2 linked regions of the Homo sapiens genome follow. The protein of the gene in region 1 interacts with the protein of each later gene in a pairwise test. Each region holds a gene or a part of one and is shown in the gene's direction. Other genes may lie near its edges. The genes, in order: SPMIP4 and KLHL40.

Region 1 (3,828 bases):
CTCCTCATACCCCCTCCCAGTCAGCTGCATCCTCTTCCCACCACCCAGCGTGTATCTATTAATAGCACTTTAAATACACTCACTACTTTCGCAGTTACCAGACATAATTGAGTTCATATTTATAAAACAACTTAAAAAGAAGCACAGACATGACACCTCAGACCAGTGTTTCTCAAAGCATAGCAAATCTCCAGCCTCACCATCACCTGAAATGCTCGTTGAAAATTCAGCTTCCATATATTTACATGCAAATCTGTGTATGGACATATGTTTTTGTTTTGGGAGAGTAGTTATATGATTTTAGGAAACTTCAAAACCATTTTTCAAAGTGGCTGTAACTCTTTACATTCCAACCAGAAATGTATGAGGGTTTTTATTACTCAACATAAATGCCAACAGTTATTTATTTCTCTCTTTTTGATTATACGGTGACTGTGGAGTATTAACTCATTGTGGTTATTTTTGGTTTTGTAAATAAATTTTATTAGAACATGGCAACAGTTGCTGGGCACAGTGGCTCAGGCCTGTAATCCTGTCATTTTTGGGAGGCAAAGGCAGGAGGATTGCTTGAGCCTAGTAGTTAGAGACCAGCCTGGGCAACATAACAAGACTCTATCTTCACAAAAAGAAAATAAAAGAACTCAGCAATATTCATTTGTTTATGGATTGTTTATGGTTGATTTTATTCAACAATGGCAGAGTTGCATTGTTACAATGATGATCACATGGTCCACAATGCTTACACTAAATTATGAGCTTATTACTACTTGGCCTTTTACAGAAAAAAGTTTTCTGATCCCTGGAATAGATCAACAAAATTGACAAACTTCTAGTTAGATTGATTAAGAACAAAAGAATACACACATAAATCACAGTTATAATGAATTTTTTTAAAAGATTATCATTACATATTCTCCAGGCATTAAAAAGATCATAACTTAAAATTGACAAGTGTCCTTAAAAAGTGGTCCTCCCAAAATTGGCATGAGAAGATAAAGAAAATCTGAATAGTCCTATACATAATAATAAATTGAATTTATCAAAAACCCTCCTAAAATGGAAAGTCTAGACCCAAGTGGTTTTACTGGTAAATCTTTTCTAATCTTCAAGGAGAAATAACACCAATCTTACACAAGATTTTTAGAATGTAAGGAAGGTTAAATTACCCCATATTATGGGTAATCTCTTTTGTTGAAGTTGTAGCATAATCCCAAGTACCTCAGAATGTGACCTTATTTGGAAATAGGGTCATTTCCAAGGTAATCAAGTTAAAATGAGGTCATGAGGGTGAATTTAATCCAATCTAACTGGTGTTCTTATAAAAAGAAAATTTAGAGGTAGACATGCTGCAGAGAGAATGTCTTGTGAACATGAAAGCAGACAGTGGGGTCATGCCTCTACAAGCCAAGGGACACTAAAGATTTCCATTAAACCACCCAGAATCTTGGGAAGAGGCAGGAATCAGATTTTTCTTCACAACCCTCAGAAGAAACCAACCCTGCCAATACACTGAGGCTGAACTTCCAGAACTATGAGACAATAAATTTCTATTGTTGAAGCCACCCAGTTTGTGGTACCTCATTATGGCAGCGCTAGCAAATTAATACACTCCGCAACTTGTTTCATGAGGTTCGCATTACTCTAATACTGTCAAAACCTGCCAAAACCATAAGAGAATGAAAACCAAAGAGAAAGGAAAGAAAAAAGAAAAAATAAAAAAAAAAAAAAAAAAGAAAATTCAGCTTCCTGGGGCCCACTACAGGCCTTCTGACCCACAGTCTTGGAGGGTCTTAGGAGTCAGGAATCTCCTGCCAGCTCTGCAGATGATTCTGACTCAGCCAAGGTTTAAGGGCACTTGCTAAGGCCTAATAAAGGAGACTTTGGCTGAGATTAAATAACTGCACACGCGGCTAATGCCATCTGTTAGTGATGGACAGAAGTTTTATTCCAGTGATTGCTTTATATCTTTGAAGTTTAAAAGCAGAGTTCCCACACAGAAAGAGTTCTGTATAGCCAAATAAAAAACATGCCCCTTTCATACTCTCTAAAACCAGTAAAGGAGGAAAATGTATTTGGACCCAAATTTCAATGTCTTTAAATTAGTATCAAAGAGCATTGCAATGTACACTCCTATGCCCATCTCGTGTACTCAGACAATGAAAATGGGTATGACTTTTGACCTACCATTTGTGGCAATATCCCTGATCAATTTTTTTCTCCTTTTTATCCCACAACTACAGCAAGAAAAATTCCACCCTGTCTTCAAACCTCCCAGACCGTTGGAAGGACGAATTGCCCGATTAATTCAGAACCGACGTTCTCTGGAGGCTATAGTCCAGCAAAGACCACGTTCCTGTCCAGATTGTACTCCTAGAGTTTTGTGTAATTTTCATACCTTTGTACCCAGTTCTAAAGAAATGGTGGCACTTAGTGATAACATACCAGCCGGTGTGACCCATAAAAACCAGGATATTGAAGAGAAGATCATAGAAGAACAGAGCTTGCTGTCTACCTATGAACTCCCATCTTGTTACCCAACAAAAGACCTAACTAGCATTTATGACATAAAGCCATTTCCAAAAATCACAGATACTAAAAAGACAGAAGATTTATACTGGAGACAGCAGTCACTAAAAACCCAACCCACACCTTACTGTAAACCAGACCACTGGATTCACTATGAAAATCTTAAATCTCCCCTACGTGATCAGTATAATATGTGTCCAGACCCTGTTAGCCTTAGTAAACCTAGTGTTTTACAAAATAAACAAGACACGGAAGCTTTCACTTTAGAACATTTTTTAAGTAAGCCAGAAGAAGAGTTGTTCTTGAATATGGAAAACAATGAAGAAACAAGACCTGTTCTTGGTTGGATTCCTAGAGCTGGAGTGACCAAACCTCAGACCAACCTGCTGGAGCTTAAGAACTCTTTTTCAAAAACTGGTGCACAAAAGCGTTTCCATAAATCAATTCTAGAAGACCATAAAGACCTCAGGGATAATGAGCATTCGGGGATGAAGCACCAATTCTATGGCCATAATTCCTATTATTTCTATAATTGAGATACTCATTCTTCCCTTCAAAACCCAGCCTCTTGCAAGAAGCTAAAAAATATAACAGAATTTCCTTCGTATTGCTGGATTCTGTTTTCTAGATTAAACCACAAGGACCTTGTTAGTGAGGTTTACATTTTCAGGAATTTAAGTTAGTATCTGGTTGGAGGAACCCAGAAAAGGTGATGTTATGACTTCTTGAAAAGTTTAACAATTTGGCAATAAAATATTAGAACTAGAAAAATTTATAGTCTTTAATCTCTCATCTTCAGATTATACAAGGAAATTTTCCAAAATCACAAAAAGCAATGTGTACAACAAAGTTTACATCATTGTTTCACCAAAAAAAATTGAAAAGCTGGAAAGAACTCAAATGATCAATAATTAATGAATGACTATACAAATTATAGTATCTTAATAAAAATGAGAACACTGTCCCTTTATGTAAATTTTTGTACATAGTAGCATTAGGTAGAAAAGACAAAACCCAAACACCTAGTTAATTGAGGGATGGACACCTCTAAAAACTATATTGTCTTAAAAGTATGTGGACTCTGTTCCTTTATGTAAACATGTAAAGAAAATAAGTCAGCGAAAAAAATGAAACCCAAAACTCTCTGCATGTACACATTACAAATTGAATTGTTTGCTTACCCTTAACCTTCTGATTGAGAAACATAACTGTTTCTTTTATGCAGATAAAATTATTTTACTGAAGATCTAGCAATGGCCTTAATTAGCAACTGGTGAGTTCTAATTATAGCAAGAAAGGATG
Region 2 (2,582 bases), on another chromosome or scaffold:
ATGGGTGCAGAGACAGGGACTGAGCCGAGCCTGGATGGGTGCCCTCCCCCACCCCCACTCCCGTCTCCTCCAGGTCATTCAAATGGGGTGAATCGGACCCGCTGCCTTACGTGGTGTATGGCCACACAGTGCTCTCCCACATGGACCTTGTCTACGTAATTGGCGGCAAAGGCAGTGACAGGTGAGGCTGGGCCTGGAGTGAGTCTGTGGAGCAGAGGTAGAATCTCCCAGAGGCTGTCAGGGGTTTGTCCTGGCTGCCCCGGCAGGTGATTGCAGGGAGGCGTGGCTGGGCTCCTGCTTCTCTCCACCCATCCCCACCCTCCACCCCACAGGAAGTGCCTGAACAAGATGTGCGTCTATGACCCCAAGAAGTTTGAGTGGAAGGAGCTGGCACCCATGCAGACCGCCCGCTCACTCTTTGGGGCCACTGTCCATGATGGCCGCATTATCGTGGCAGCTGGGGTCACCGACACAGGGCTGACCAGTTCTGCCGAAGTGTACAGCATCACAGACAACAAGTATGAAAGCTTGTCCCTTCCGCCAAGGACAACTGCATGGCTTTGGGCTTCTGTCAGCCCCAGCAGGAGCTGCAGTCCCTGTCTTGGGTCTCCAGTGTTGACTTTGGACATCAGTATAGAAATAGGCTTTCTCTCCTGATCAGCAGTGAGGTGGGGAGGCGGGGCAAGGGTTATGGCCAGCCTGGTCTGCAGGAGGGGGCTCCCAGGGCTGGGGGAGGGGATGCCAGGTTCCTCATTCAGGGACTCATACCAGGCAATGGCCTGGTGCAAGGGATATAGCAGTGAACAAGACAGAAGCTGCCCTGCCTGGGACATCAGAAAAGAGAAAACTGAACTGAGAGACAGTTGGACTCAGCTCGCAAAAGGGGTGAGGGTGGTGGGAGGAGGTTGCCCCAGACTAAGGAAAGGTGGTGCTGAGGCAGTTTGGAGAAAAAACTCAAGGCCTATAGGAGGGAAGGTGTTGCTCCAGCTGGGTGGAGGTGGGTGGGTGATGGAGTTGGGATGGCGGTGCTGGGGCTGGAGCGGGGGCCAGCAGGAGAGGGACTGTATCTCATCTGTGTTCTACTAAAGTACTTCATGGCAACTGATATAGAGAGCAGATTAGGGATTTCCCAGGGGTCAGGAAGGTCAGGGGTGATAAAGGCCTGGAGCTGGGGGCACAGCGGAGATGGGGTTGAGGGGATGCACCGGACAAAGACAGGCCAGGGCTTCTTACACTGTGATGGGCATGCAAATCTCCTGGGGATCGCCTTAAAGTGCAGATTCTGATTCTCGGTATGCGGAGGGCTGAAAGCCTGTAAGTCTGCATTTCTAACGCACCCCCAGGAGATGCTGACGCTGCTGGGCCATGAACCACACTTTGAGTAGCAAGAGTCTAGGAGGTGGGAGAAACAGGGCTTAGCTATTGATTGGATGTGGGGGTGAGAGGGGGAGAAGTACATGCTTCTGAGTGAGGGTGGGAGGCCATTTACTGGATAATCATTGGGATTGGGTAGGGAAAGTGAGGGTCCAGTTAGGACATGTGGACTTGAAGTACCTGGGGGTGTCCAAAAGGACCCCACCCGGGAGAGAGAGGGCTGAGCTGGAGGGAGAGATCTGGGGGTCAGTAGCACACGGAGGGGCCAAGCTCCCTCAGGAGAGAGAGTGTAAATGGGAGGAGCTGAGGTCCAAGCCCTGATGGTGGAGGCAGCTGCATTATCCAGGAAGGAGGCCACGAAGGTGAGGCCGAAGAGATGGGTGAGGAAAGTCACGTCAGCAGGGCTGTGTGCTGTAGGACCTCAGTGCGTGTGCAGTGACTGTGGACCTCAGGAAGGTCAGTTTTGGAGGATGGGACTAAGGCCCAAGGCAGGAGCCAGGGTAGCGAAGATACATTGAGAACAACTGGGCTGTGAAGGGAGAAGAAGGATAGAGCAGGTGTGCAAGGTGGGTGGGGCTGCAGGGGCCGCTGAGGGGCAAAAGGACTGCGTCCAGGGCAAGGCTGGGGGCCTGCTAGGGGCTGGGGTTGTGAGTTGGAGGGTGGAGTTAGTTCAGGAGAGGAGTAGGGGCAGTGGGGAGATCCATGGTGGACTTTGCTGGACAGGTTGGATAGAATGGCAAGAGGACAAGGAAAGGAAAGTGGAGGAGCAAGAGAATGGGGAAGGAAGGGAAGACCAGAGGGACAGGGAAGGGGAATGGGGTTGGGGGCATGGGTGCCTGGGACTTGGATTGCAAAGGGTTGCAGTTGGAGCTGTGGGTGCTGGGTGGCAGGGACAGTCACTGGGCTTGCCGAGGCATCCCAATGATGCACCTTCTCACACACCCCCAGGTGGGCACCCTTCGAGGCCTTCCCACAGGAGCGTAGCTCACTCAGCCTGGTCAGCCTGGTGGGTACCCTCTATGCCATTGGTGGCTTTGCCACACTGGAGACGGAGTCTGGAGAGCTGGTTCCCACAGAGCTCAATGACATCTGGAGGTGAGTCCCACCCTGGGGAGGCAAGGGGGCATCATGAGCAAGGCTGACACCCCATAGCACCATGGTGGGGTACCAAGGCACTGGGCAAGCTCCTCTGGGGGCAAAGCGGATCC

The links.
Region 2: the proteins of SPMIP4 (region 1) and KLHL40 interact in a two-hybrid assay, tested with the Homo sapiens proteins (2 studies listed by BioGRID and IntAct).

The regions. Positions count from the first base shown.
Region 1 is NC_000007.14:25,135,206-25,139,033, reverse strand, and holds part of SPMIP4 (sperm-associated microtubule inner protein 4), read left to right. Parts: intron 1-2,240; coding exon 2,241-3,062; 3' UTR 3,063-3,828. UniProt on the Homo sapiens protein: Microtubule inner protein (MIP) part of the dynein-decorated doublet microtubules (DMTs) in flagellum axoneme. May serve to reinforce and thus stabilize the microtubule structure in the sperm flagella.
Region 2 is NC_000003.12:42,688,537-42,691,118, forward strand, and holds part of KLHL40 (kelch-like protein 40), read left to right. Parts: intron 1-73; coding exon 74-181; intron 182-332; coding exon 333-518; intron 519-2,322; coding exon 2,323-2,469; intron 2,470-2,582. UniProt on the Homo sapiens protein: Substrate-specific adapter of a BCR (BTB-CUL3-RBX1) E3 ubiquitin ligase complex that acts as a key regulator of skeletal muscle development.